2 linked regions of the Homo sapiens genome follow. The protein of the gene in region 2 interacts with the protein of the main gene of each other region in a pairwise test. Each region holds a gene or a part of one and is shown on either strand. Other genes may lie near its edges.

The links. Proteins that work in one complex are often made in the same cells at the same time.
Region 1: the proteins of BATF (region 2) and GARS1 interact in binary tests that used the Homo sapiens proteins (3 or more experiments, as listed by UniProt).

Annotation. Positions count from the first base shown.
Region 1 is NC_000007.14:30,625,850-30,632,877, forward strand, and holds part of GARS1 (glycine--tRNA ligase isoform 1 precursor), read left to right. Parts: intron 1-384; coding exon 385-470; intron 471-2,710; coding exon 2,711-2,820; intron 2,821-5,598; coding exon 5,599-5,692; intron 5,693-6,397; coding exon 6,398-6,588; intron 6,589-7,028. UniProt on the Homo sapiens protein: Catalyzes the ATP-dependent ligation of glycine to the 3'-end of its cognate tRNA, via the formation of an aminoacyl-adenylate intermediate (Gly-AMP).
Region 2 is NC_000014.9:75,525,468-75,532,495, reverse strand, and holds part of BATF (basic leucine zipper transcriptional factor ATF-like), read right to left. Parts: intron 1-7,028. UniProt on the Homo sapiens protein: AP-1 family transcription factor that controls the differentiation of lineage-specific cells in the immune system: specifically mediates the differentiation of T-helper 17 cells (Th17), follicular T-helper cells (TfH), CD8(+) dendritic cells and class-switch recombination (CSR) in B-cells.

The sequences.
Region 1 (7,028 bases), on a different chromosome or scaffold from region 2:
AGTAATGAGAACCCTTGTGTTTTTACCAGCAGGCCTATTTCTGACAAAGTTGTTATTATTCTAAAACTGAATTTTCAAAAAGTTGTTTTTGGTTTTACCTTGATTCAAAACCAAAGGAATTTGTCATTAAGTCACTTGTGGAGTTTTATAAAACTAGTCAAAATTTGGTGTATGTCCTCAGAGTACTTTTTGGTGCCATTGTTAGACTAATGCTTAATTTGGTGTTTCTTATGAAATAATTTAAATTTGACATCACTTATTATATCTGGAGAGTTGATCAAGTTATAAAAAGAAAAAACAACTTAGCAATCTACAAAATTCCTTTAAATTAAGGCACAGGGTGCCTGTTTGAACTAATACAAAATGTGTTTTGTTTCTTCGTAGGGAATTCACAATTGAAACTGAAGGGAAAACATTTCAGTTAACAAAAGACATGATCAATGTGAAGAGATTCCAGAAAACACTATATGGTAAATTTGTAAAAATAATAAACAAAAAGTCACTGCTCCTTAAAGCTTTTGTTGTTGTTTGAGACAGGGTCTTGCTCTGTCACCCAGGCTGGAGTGCAGTGGCACAACCTCTGCCTCCCCGGCTCAAGCGTTCCTCCCTCCTGTCTCAGCCTCCGAATTAGCTGGGACTACAGGTGCAGGCTACCATATCCAACTAATTTTTGTATTTTTTGTAGAGATGAGGTTTTTGCCATGTTGCCCAGGCTGATCTTGAACTCCTAGGCTCAAGCAGTCCACCTGCCTTCGCGTCCCAAAGTGCTGAGATTACAGGCATGAGTGACCACGCCTGGCCCTCATTCCCTGTCTTCTTTGGCAAAATAACTTGTTAAAAAGTCATTTAGGGGCCGGGCGTGGTGGCTTACGCCTGTAATCCCAGCACTTTGGGAGGCCAAGGCGGGTAGATCACGAGGTCAGGAGTTCAAGATCAACCTGGCCAACATGGTGAAACCCCGTCTCTACTAAAAATACAAAAATTAGCTAGGCATGGAGACACGCACGTGTAATCCCAGCTACTCGGGAGGCTGAGGCAGGAGAATCCCTTGAACCCGGGAGGTGGAGGTTGGAGTGAGCCGAGATCACGCCATTGCACTCCAGCCTGGGCGACAGTGCAAGACTCCGTCTCAAAAAAAAAAAAAAAAGTAATTTAGACCAGTGATGTTGCATGCTTTTTTAAAAGTTAAGAAGATGTTTTTTTGTAGAACAAATTCTGTGAATTAGGCAATGAGTAATTTGGAGCACGTATGAAGGATGCTGAAGTTTATTTGTGGCTGAATTGAAATTCCTGGAAACGGAGTAGTAATGGGTGTTTGAGAAGCTACTGCCAGTGGAAAGAGTGAGCATACCTTTCCTTTTGTTCTTGGCTTGTCTTGTAGCCAGGCTTCAGTGAGCAGTGTTAGGAGTAAGCGGGGGCTTCTCCATCACACTCTGGGGCTTTTCCGTCACAGTCTGGGGCTTTATAGCCATGATCCTGGCAGCTGGTTCAGAGCTGCACATCACCATTACTCAGATACCACAGAAGGATGGGAGGAAAATGCCTTGATCATGTTTCTAAAGTATTAACTCTTTATCATAGACAAACAGGCTCTCTTTTCCCATATGTGTGTGAGTTTTGGTACCAATGATCTCATTTCCCAAAAAACATAAACTCTTCCAAAGTTATGACCAGTTATCTTAGACCTGGACATTGCTTAGCAGTGCTTCTTCCTTTCCACATAATAAGTAATAATTATCAGTATATTTCCTGTGTATACCACGGGTGTTGTCTTACCCACATGAAGAGCTGTGAGCCCCTGTAAGATGTCTTTGATGGAGTGCTGTTCTTTGAGCAAACTCTCCCCTAAGGGCGTCCTGACCCCAGAACCTTGGTGATACAATGCCAGTAATTTGGTTCTGAACAAGTTCTTATCAAGATAACAAGCTAAAAAGTTAAACAAATACAAACCATGTAATACTTTTTGCATGTAGGAATTGTTTTTGTGAATTTTGCCAGCTGTGTTAGATTTTAAATTCTAGCAAAATCTTATTAAAAGCCTTAGATTTTTTATGCTTTCTGGGTAGCCGAGGCAGGTAATAGAGATAAAGTGTAGCTGCTGCTATTCGTAGTTTGCTGACTGGTGAAGGAATATTCTAGTACCTCAGGTTTCATTTTTACACAGTATAAACAGAATTTGGTGAAAGGTTTTTTCACTCCAGCTTTCTCTTCAAAGGCATGTTTCCTATCAGCAAATAGTTTTTAGGTATGTTCTAGTTTCTTTGTTCTGATATACAGAGATAAAAATCCATCTAGAATAGAGATATTTTTAGTGCTAAGAATTTTTTTCTTTTCTTTTCTTTTTTTTTTTTTGAGATGAAGTCTCGCCCTTGCCTTCCAGGCTGGAGTGCAATGGCACGATCTTGGTTCACTGCAACCTCCGCCTCCTGGGTTCAAGCAATTCTCCTGCCTCAGCCTCCGGAGTAGCTGGGATTACACGCACCTGCCACCATACCCAGTTAATTTTTGTATTTTTAGTAGAGACGGGGTTTCACCATGTTGGTCAGGCTGGTCTCGAACTCCTGACCTCAGATGATCCACCTACCTCAGCCTCCCAAAATGCTGGGATTACAGGTGTGAGCCACCGCAGCTGGTGAATTGTTTAGAGAGAATCTGAAATGCATTATGTGGTATTTGAGAGAATGTTATTGAATTTCTATCTCTTTTTCAGTGGAAGAAGTTGTTCCGAATGTAATTGAACCTTCCTTCGGCCTGGGTAGGATCATGTATACGGTATTTGAACATACATTCCATGTACGAGAAGGAGATGAACAGAGAACAGTAAGTTGTTGTGTACAGTGTGCTGTTATAGTGTCAGAAAATAAAAATTTTCTGAATTACATTGTGAAGTACATTAATAAGACTCTAGAATGGTCAATTAGTTATTACTATAATCTAGTGCTATTAACACTCATCTTTGCTTAAGTATGTATAGACAAACCAGTTTCCTGTGTTATCTTATTTGAGCTTTAGGTTATTCTAGAAGCTATTGTTTTAGTTGCCTGGTGCTCTCTATTCTTAGACTGAACCTATTACTTTGGGGAACAATCTATATTATGTCAATGGAAGGAATGGTACTTTCTGGATATGCTGTGTTTCAGAAAATTGGGAAGGATGAGATAACTCCTAGAATTTAGCCAGACCACTAAGCTGTATCTGTACTCTGGTAAAGTATCAAAGGGAACCCTCTCAAACTGCATGAAATTGTCTGGGGTACTTTTGGGGTAAAGATGTGAATTCCTAGGTTCTACTCTGGAGATGCTGATTCACTAGGTCTGAGACCCAGGGATCTGGGGTTTTTTTAAAAAAAATAAGAATCCTGAGTGATTTCACTGTGAAAGCTTGACAGATCATAAATGGGATAATAGTTGTCTGGGGTATAGCCTTTCCTAGCATTCAAGTATTGCTGAAGATAGAAGTTTATAAGAAGTCTTCATCAGCTCCCACAAATTTTCTTTTCGGTCTGATGCTTCTGAATCACTGCTCCTTGCCTTCTTCCTCTTTATCTCCTTGCCTTACTTCACCATTTTTACCTCACCTCTGCCTGCAGAAGTTACACTCCTGGGCAGATTACTAGGAAAGCCAACCAGAAGAATGGCTAGAAAGGAGAGGTTGTATATGTCAGGTTAATTGAAAGAAACAGCGTCATCCACTTGGCCATTCTAAAGCTTGAGTGTACGTAATGTTAGACATCAACCGTGTGGTTCTTTCTAGGACATTTAACCTCAAAGAATGAACTAGTGAGTTCTCGGCACCAGTACTTTAGTCTGACACACTATTGTAATACATAGCTAATAAAGTTAGTATGGTACTCTCTGCCCTAAAGTTGCATCTTCATTTCCCAACCTTGAAGGAGCAGCCCTATTCATTCAACAGATTGTAAGAACCTGGGCTAGGCCCCAGGTGCGCAAACATAAGGCTTGGTTCTTTTTGAGAAATGATGACAAACATAACTGCATGTGTTCTTTTTAGATGTCAAGTCTGCTTCAAGCTTTGTCTGCTTATTTTTCTAATAAAAAGGTTTTAGAAAATCTTTTAGCTGTTCCTTTGAATCTAACAATATTAATATAACTAGAGCTTTAATAGAAATTTCGTAAGGGCTAAACAAGAATAAATTAGTCACAGTGTTTTATGAATTGCATGAATTCCCATCATGAAGAGAAATTTGATTAGGCTGTGGGAAGCCAAAAATGTTTCTAAATTATTAGCACCTAGTTCCTCAATCCATTTGCCTATAAATTTGGTATAAAAACATTGCTAGTGAAATTTTAAAAATTATTTTTCTATAAAGGCAGGTCCCTGTTACTCTCTTATATTAAATAGAAATATCACAAGATGGAGGAAGGGAATAGAATTCTGAACCTTCTGTGATGTGAGCAGCCATATTGGTGGAATACAGGCCTTACTTAGAGTGGGATATTCATTGCTTGGCAATAAAGGTTAATTGAACTTTGGGTGAGAGGCTAAACTGGAACCTGTGTCATTCATTATTTTTATGGGACAAATTTATTCTGTGTTTTTGCCTTCAAGTGAACCTTTTGTACAAGTATTAAGAACTGCCTTCAGTTCCCATTTCCAACCTAAAGTGGTTGATTGGTTTGCCTTCCACAGAATATTTTTATTTTCGCCTTTTTTTTTTTTTTTTTTTGGTCTCGCTTTGTTGCTCAGCTGGAGTGCAGTGGCACAATCTCAGCTGACTACAGCCTCAAACTTCTGGGCTCAAGCAATCCTCCTGCTTCAGCCTCCCAAGTAGCTGGGACCACAGGTGCGCCTCACAATGCCCAGCTAATTTTTTAGTTTTTGTAGAGATGGGGTCTTGCCATGTTGCCCTGGCTGGTCTTGAATTCCTGGGGTCAAGCAATTCTTCTGCCTCAGCCTCCCAAAGTGCTGGGATTACAGGCATGAGCCACTGTGTCCAGCCTTATTTTTGCTTTCTTTGATTTCTGAGTTACTCAGAAACTATTTCAGGGCAGTTTAAGAAGGCTGTACTTTTTAGTGTAGGTATATGGAACATCTTTTTTTGTTTTGTACTATTTCTTTTGGACATATGTTTGTGAGCTAATTAAACTTTTCTGTTTCACTTGGTCACTGAGGTTCATAGGTTTTTCTCTTAAAAGACAGAATGGGCTTTGGTTTGGGTCACTGCCACTTGTTTGAATATTTAGGTAGTCTCCACAGAAAGTCTTTTATGTGGAACCAAAAAATTACCGTCTTTTATATACAGTAGCTTTCAGAATGCTTTCACATCATTTGACTTTTTTAGTAACGGGCTTGTGAAGCAAGCAGAGCAGGTGGTAGAGACCTGCTTTTTAGGTGGAGAAACTAAGGTTCAGAAAGAGTTCATGACTTGGCCTAAATTCGGAGCTGAAACCAGGTGTTTCTGATGCTGGTTCTGCTTCTCTTTTGCCATACTGCTTTTCATGTCATGTTTTCTGGCATTTTGGTAATGACGTTATGCTTGAACACTTGCTGAATATTAACCTCTTTTGGTTTGGGATATTAGCATTTAGATATTTACAAATTAACATATTTGGATTTTTTTCTTTTTAAATCATCCAGTTCTTCAGTTTCCCTGCTGTAGTTGCTCCATTCAAATGTTCCGTCCTCCCACTGAGCCAAAACCAGGAGTTCATGCCATTTGTCAAGGAATTATGTAAGCAAATTCAATTGGGTAAACTCCATGGGAACACCATCAAGGAGACTGAATTTTAGGAAATGTATCATTTATTTCAATAAAAATATAGACTGAATAAAGAATATAAATGATTTTATAAAGAGTACATGATTTTAGCCTGTACTCTTATTTCTAAGCGAGAGGATATGCTTGCTCAGATGTTTTATTCTGGCATTTGAGTGAGGCAAGGTAGGACCCAAGAGTCAGATTTAAAAATTATTTACTTCTCATACTGACCTTGGTGCCAAGTTCATCGAGGGAACCTGAGTGGAGTGTAGCAACCATAATGGATCTACAGCCACAGAATCCACAGCCCTGAAAGGAATCCTGGTGGTCATCTGGCACATCCACTTATTTCAGAGCTGGGAAATGGGGAGAGTCCATTGACCTGCTTAGAGCCATAAAAATAGAGGTGGTGGAGTCAGGACTCACCTTCTGGCCTTGGCTCTTGGTCCCATATTTGTTCCCCCTATAGCTGTATCAGATGGAGGTATGAGTGAAGATTTGGATTCCCGCAAGGGATTTATTAAACTTTAGGGATATTTCTTTCTCTTGCAACTCAACTTGTTGCTTTCTTGTCTTGGTCCCATTTATAAGTCTCCTGAGCTTGTAAGACAGTAGTTAGATAACACTGGGCTTAACTCCATTGTTTTATTTTTAATTTACTTTGTTTATTTTGGATAGCGGAAGCCCTGACCAGGCATGGAGTATCTCACAAAGTAGACGATTCCTCTGGGTCAATCGGAAGGCGCTATGCCAGGACTGATGAGATTGGCGTGGCTTTTGGTGTCACCATTGACTTTGACACAGTGAACAAGACCCCCCACACTGCAACTCTGAGGGACCGTGACTCAATGCGGCAGATAAGAGCAGAGGTATCTGGCCTTCTCTTTGGCATTTTTAGCCTTAGAAATGTGTACTGCTTCTTACTGATTTGTGTTGGATTTTGATGTGTTTATGCTCCCTTTCCTTTTTTTTTCTTTTTAATTTTAATGAACGGCTTGTATCAGACAGAGCCCAGATTCTCAAGTCCCCCGGTTTAATTATGAAAATATCCATTAGCACTTCTCTAATATTTTATAAACATTTGTGTTGCTCCAGGCTTATTCTCCAGCAGTTTGCTTTTATACTTGTTTGTTTATTGGGCAAGAGAAATATGATCCTAAGAATTTGTTGCCATAGTTTTATTGGTAGGCTTTGGAGGGTTAGACATTTTAATGTTTTATTTTTACAGACGCGTATACATGTGTATGTATAAGCTTTTCCGTGTTCATATATTCAAAACAGTGAATCATGTTTCAGTAGTTTTGGTCAA
Region 2 (7,028 bases):
ATTGTATCATTTGATATACCAATTGTATCTATCTATATATAGTACCTATCTATATATGTTGATATCATGATATATATGACATATATGATATCAATTGTACAATGGATATACTGTATTGAAAGTAAACATGTCTTTACTTTCTTGATCACGCCTGATGATGGCTGGGGGACAGTGTAGATTTTGGAGGATATTGCTTAAAAGACAAAAAAATTAATTCATGTAGAGATTCAAGGAAAATATAGGTTAGGGAAGATGAATACATCTTCATCAGAGTTTGAAGAAAGAGGCAGTAAAACTTAATGGTTAGGAAAATGGGTTCTGACGTCAGACAGACCTAGTCACAAGCTGTGTCATCTCCATCAAGTTACTTAATGCAAGGAATTATAAAATACAGCTTTTATGCAGATTAAATGAGATGCTGCAGGGAGAGCACTTGAGGCACAGTGGTTAATACATAGTCGTTTGTTCAATTAACATGGTTTTTTCTTAAAAGAAATTCATAGCAATGGAGACAGAAGGGTCGCATCTCTTTCCATAGATGGTTCACTGATTCTACATTGAACTTTTTAAGGGTGGAACTAGCCTGAACATTCCTGACCTGTGACTTATCTGTGCCAACAAACATTATGGCATGGTCTCCCAGAGAGAGCAAAAGAATTCCAGGAGTGAAATAGGACCGTAAGCATCCTTCTCTGCCTCCTCAGAAGGCCAAGAACAATAGTGCTACCCAAACATCTTTTCCTCCATTACTCAATTTTTCTCCAATTGTAAATACCGTATTTCTCACAGTGTTAGCTCAAAGCTTCATTTAATGCATAATTTATACTCATGACTTTTCTGTCATATATGACAAAGCACATCCCTGGAGCCTGTAAACCTCTCTTTTTTCTTATACTGGTGTGAGACTCCTTCAGGAGGCAGCCCCAGGCAAGCACCTGGCCCACTTCCATCTAAGACAGTACCTAAATCTCAAGCTTTCAAACTTGGCTGTTACTCTCACTTGCTTTCAGCTCCATCCACCAGGCCAGATATGACTTGTCAACAGCTCGGCTCAGGGCTAACACTGCTATTTGCCACTGCTCCCGGCAACTCCACTGATTTTAGCCTTTTCATGAATAAAGCTTCTTAATTGACCTCAGCTCTCTTTTCCACTGATCCTGGTCTTTGACTTGAAATCCTTCCAGCTGTACGGCACCAGATAGCCATGACCAACCAACCAAGATGGCTACACAAAGGAAACGGATTTGCCATCTTTTATCATATAGTACTGTGGACCTTAGAGTCACTCAAATCCCAACTTACAGTTGGTTCTCCCAAGGGCTGAGATATTTATGTATGATGTTCAAAAGATAACGTCAAGATTGAATACTCTTCCATGTCGTGATGGAAGATTATTCAATGTTTGATGTCAAAATTAGAAAAGAAATCCTCCTAATGCATGTGTGGTAATGATCAATGCTGAGAATTTTGATATCTATATTATAAAGATAAAAGCATGTGATAAAAAATCCCAAACTGTATAAAAGGTAAAGAATGCCAAGTATCTCCCTCTTGCTTTAGATCTTTAGTCCTACTTTTCAGAAATAAATATCATTAACAATTTTTTATAATCTATTTGAAAAAGTTTGCATTTATACTTATGCATATATGTAACTTTTTCTTTTTATTAAAAACACAGAAGGGGCTGGGTGCTGTTGCTCACACCTGTAATCCCAGCACTTTGGGAGGCCAAGGTGGGCAGGGCAGATCACTTGAGCTCAGGAGTTCGAGACCAGCCTGGGCAACATAGTGAGACCCTGTCTCTAAAAATAAAAAATAAATAAATAAATAAAACATTAAATTAAAAAACTAATGGTAGCAAACTATGGACTATATTTATGCCTTTTTAACTTAAAGTACAGAAGTGATAATCCTTCCAGATTAGCACATTCAGATGTAACTCATTATTTTAACATATCTGCAATATTCCACAGAATGGACAATAATTTATTGAATCCCTTATTGGTGGATTTTTTTAGCTTATGTTCAGTCTTTCCTATAAGAAACAATGCAGCAATGATTATCTTTACATGTACAGAATTGTATGATGTGTGGATTTGTTTGTGAACACACTCCTGGATGTCAAATTGCTGAGTCGCAGGGTATGTGCACCTATAATTTGAATGGACGTGGGCAAATTGCCTTCTACCAGGGTTATGCAGACTCTACTACTAGCTGTGTGTGATGGTGCCTGCTTCTCCATTACCTTGGCAACATCGTGTATCAACAACATGTTTCATCTTTGCCAGCCTCACTGCTGCTTTAATTGGCATTTTCCTAACTAAATAAGGTCTACCATCTTTTCACACATTTATTTGCCACTTATTTCTCTTTTCTGTAAATTGCCTATTCATAGTCATTGTTCATTTTTCTTTACTTTTTTTTTTTTTTTTTTGACGGAGTCTCGCTCTGTCTCCCAGGCTGGAGTGCAGTGGCGCTATCTTGGTTCACTGCAAGCTCCGCCTCCCGGGTTCACGCCATTCTCCTGCCTCAGCCTCTCAAGTAGCTGGGACTACAGGCACCCGCCACCACGCCTGGCTAATTTTTTGTATTTTTAGTAGAGACGGGGTTTCACTGTGTTAGCCAGGATGGTCTCGATCTGCTGACCTCGTGATCCGCCCGCCTCGGCCTCCCAAATTGCTGGGATTAAGGCGTGAGCCGCCGCGCCCGGCCCATTGTTCATTTTTCTTTTGGGTTGTTAATCATCTCCTATTCATAAGAGCTCTCTCATATAGTAAGTAAACATACCTTTTTTGGTCATATGTATTACAGATATTTTTCCTCAGCTTGTCATTTGCCTTTGATTTTGCATACAGTATTTTGATCTATAAAGAAACTTTTACTTTTTATGAATAAAAGTAATGTATATCAATCTTTTCCTTTATGGCTTCAGGGTTTTATGTTTTATTTAGAAAATAATTCCTCATTCCAAGATAAATTTTTAATGGTTATTTGTCTTTTCAAGTTTCTTTAGCTTCCTTTTTTTAAAAAATTTAACATTTACCATGTTGGCCAGGCTGGTCTCGAACTCCTGACTTCAAGTGATCTGCCCACCTTGGCCTCCCAAAGTGCTAGGATTACAAGCGTGAGCCACCGTGCCCAGCCCATTTTGTATTTATACTTGTGTCCTAGGAGTTGAAATATGTATTTGGGTCTTAAAATCTGAATTTGTTTTTGGGTCTGTTTCCATATTCTATCCTGTTCAATGTTCTGTCTTTTCCACATTGTTTTGATTTCTGTATTTGTGTTTCACTTTAATATGTTGGTCAGTTAATCTTTTTTCATTATACTTCTTCTTTAGAATTTTCCTGGCAATTGTCATATGATTTTTTTTCACTGGAAACTTAGAATAGCTAATCTAGTTCTTGCCCAAATCCCAGAAAACCCTATTGGGTTTTTTATTGGGATCTCATTAAATTTATCAATTAACTTAAGGAAAATTGCTAACTTTACATAAGGTATATCTTTCCAATTATTTGAATCTTTTAAAAATCATTTAGGATACACTCTTCATAATTTTTGTTAAATTATTCCTTCCTTCCATTTGCTGTTGTCATTGGTATTATAAACAGGATCTTTCCTTCCATTAATTTCCTAATTGGTTATGTTTTGCATATAGGAACGTTATTACATTTTGTTTTAATTTTAGAAGCTGACTGCATTCTCTTATTATTTCAAATAATTTTTCAGCTGATTATCTTAGGTCCACTTATTAGCTATTGATATCTTTTAGAAACTAACTGGTCAAGTTATGCCTTTCTCTTTTTTAATCAACATCTGTACTATATACAATGAACCCTACAGTTGTCTGCAGGAGAAAAGGAACTAAGTGTGCAGGGTGCTTGTGTGAGATGCTCAACAAAAGGAGAATTAAAACAGAATTAGATTGTTTGTTGATGTCACAATTACGAAAGGAATCACCGATCCATTTTATGTCAGAGATAGTCAAGGCCAGGGATTTATAACACAATCATAAAAAGAGGCTCTCTCCCTACTCTGTCAATTTTTAAAGCAATCGATGTACAGTGTCTTGGTGCCAGCCATTTATAGGATAGATGCTGAAAATGTCGAATAGTAAGCATCCCACACTCTCACTAGAGGAACAAGATAATTGTTTCAGTATTTTAAGGTTGATAATAGTGACAGCAGTTGAAACTAAGAAAACATACCAGTATATATGAGGCTAGAACCCTAATAGGAATGTGGTCCTTTTTTGATATGGTACTCTCAGTAGCTCCCAAACCCTCATCTGTAAAGCACTGGTAGGCGAGGCCTATGGCCATGTCTGAGGGCCAGAGAACAACCCCAGCATGTGGAGCCAAGCATGGAAAGGAGTCAAGGGCAAACCACACACTGAGCCCTGACACTGGTGGTAAACCAGAAGACTTTTCACCTGAATCTCAGACATAATTAAGAGGATAATGGATGGAGAAGATAGGTGATTGTCATCTCGGAGGAAAGGAAGATGTCAAACCACAGCTAATTTGATGTAGGGCAGATTGAACACGTTGCTGCCAAAAGCTTCTACCTGAAGCCAAGAAACATAAGTTGCATTGGCAGCAGTCCGCAGGCTTGCTGCATCAACTCCGCTGCGACCTACTCATTGGGCAAAAGGTAAAGACGATGCTGTGGTGCTCAAAAGAAAGCAGTGGAGGAGGAATCTGTGTTCAGATGTGGGGAAGATTGGAACATTCTAGAAACTGAGGCTGGGGTGTGGCTATGGATATGTTGACTATATGACTTGGGGCTCTGTGGACCCTCAAGCTCTAGAGATTACCCTAATGTCACATGACTTGTATAATTAGATGAGCTGACTCTTTGGGCTCTGACATTTGTCTTGGAGAGGGAGAGAGCTGATTCAGTGCTGAAAGCCTTGCCGCAGCAAAGAGACATCTGTGTCACCCTCATTAATACGTTCCCCAAGGGTTTGGATGAAGACCAGTGAGTTGAATTTACAGGGAGACAGGGGTGCAGCTTAACATAGGAAAGACTCTTCTGTTCATAAATTGGGAGAGAGGAAGATCTCCAGCCCTAGAAGTGACCAGGCATACAATGGGACCATTGGCTGGAGGTGTTGCAGAGAAGTCTGAAGCATCAAACTTATGTCTAAACTTTCTAGCCTTTAAGAAACCTTTCAACCCTGAGCTTCTGTGATTAAATATACACAAAATGTATATATGTTTTCATATATATATAAAATGTGTGTATAATTTGTGATTATCTTGCTTCTTATGATAATTATTATTACTCTTATTATACTTAAATTTTTGAGTATTTATGAATGACAGGCATTGTGTTGGGCTCTTTAAATGTACGATCTGTATAGGGTAGTTATTGTCATTTTCCATTTTCTAGATAAGGAAACCAAGCCCAAGGGAGGCCAAGAACGTCTCTGTCACACAGATAGTAGGCAGCAGGGCTGGGATTCAATCCCTGTTCTGACTGCTGAGCTGCCGAACTATACTTACATTCCACTTAAGAAAACAGGTACACACTTAAAAAGCTTACAGCAGTTTGCCAGTCTGAGGACATTGTCTACTTGTACACAAGGAAGATTTTATCCTTTTAAATTTTGATTGGTCTGTTTGCTTGCCCTAAAGAATAGTGAATCAGAATCAGACTCTGATAGAGAAAGAGGTAAGGATCATAGATGTTCAAGCTTAAGGTGGTAAACCAGAATGTGGGGACACAGTGAAATCATGGAGAACATACAAGCAGCAGGGCCACCAAAAACTTGACATTCAGACTGTTGAGCACAGTTAGTACAGACTTTCTGTTCATTCATTCTTTCCAAAAAGTTAACAAATAGCTGTGAATTTAATGTTAGTGTGCAATGGAGTGTAAGCTGAATACATTTCAAATAAAACCCAAGCACCCAATCAGAGCTGTTGGTGCAGTCTGCTCTGTTTCCTTGTAAAGCTGAAAGATGCATTATTTCCCCTAAAACTACATCTTACTTACTTATTCTTGATACGGTTAACACAGCCATTCTAACTGGCTGATTATCATGCTAATCTTCCAGATAAATACAAGCTTATTGATTTTTGGTGCCAATTGCACTTTTTCCATGGAAAGGAATTGCTAGGCTATTAGAGGTAAGGGAATGTTTCTGGAGCAAGGGCAGGAAGGTAGAGTTGCTAGGGAAGGGGATGAGGGGATGGAGAGAAAGGAACTAGTGAAGAGTTGGTTGAACAAGAACCATACTGGGGGCAGAGTGAAGAGAGGTAAGGTGGTAAGGTATGAGCAATGGGGAGGAAGCAGTACTTTATAAGGGGCACAGCCAGAACCTAGAAACACCATCTAGGGCCTTGGCCACTGGCGGAACTGCAGTTCAGCACTGCTCAAGGCCCCTGGACCACTCAAGACAGAGGTAAAAGCTTTCTCTAGAAAAATTTGGGACTAGAGGCAACTCAACTAGGATGGTGATCATCCCAGATAAGGGCACTTGAAATTGCATCTTTCATAGACCCCTTGGGATACCATTAAAGACAGAAATTTCAAAATAAGACTTTAATAATGCTCTGAAAAGAGGAATCTGGTACAGCGCCCTGTGAATTTCCTTGTGTCAAATGCAGGGGCATTTGGGTCTCTGCCAAGGGATGCGACTATGTGTGGTCCTTGCACTGCGAGACAATGGGCCGTCCCCAAAGCACTTGATACCTTCTAAATTCTTTCCCAATACAGCTCTGCCTTCTCCCACCCCTTGAGCCCTCCTGGGGTAGAAAGGCCCATTTCTCTGTTCAGCCTCCTGGCCCATTCCCTGCTACAGAGCCTTCTATTTTTTTTTTTTTTTTTTTGAGATGAAGTTTCACTCCTATCACCCAGGTTTGAATGCAATGGCGCGATCTCGGCTCACTGCAACCTCTGCCTGTTCAAGTGATTCTCCTGCCTCAGCCTCCCAAGTAGCTGGGACTACAGGCATGCACCACCATGCCTGGCTAATTTTTTGTATTTTTAGTAGAGACGAGGTTTCACCATGTTGGCCAGGC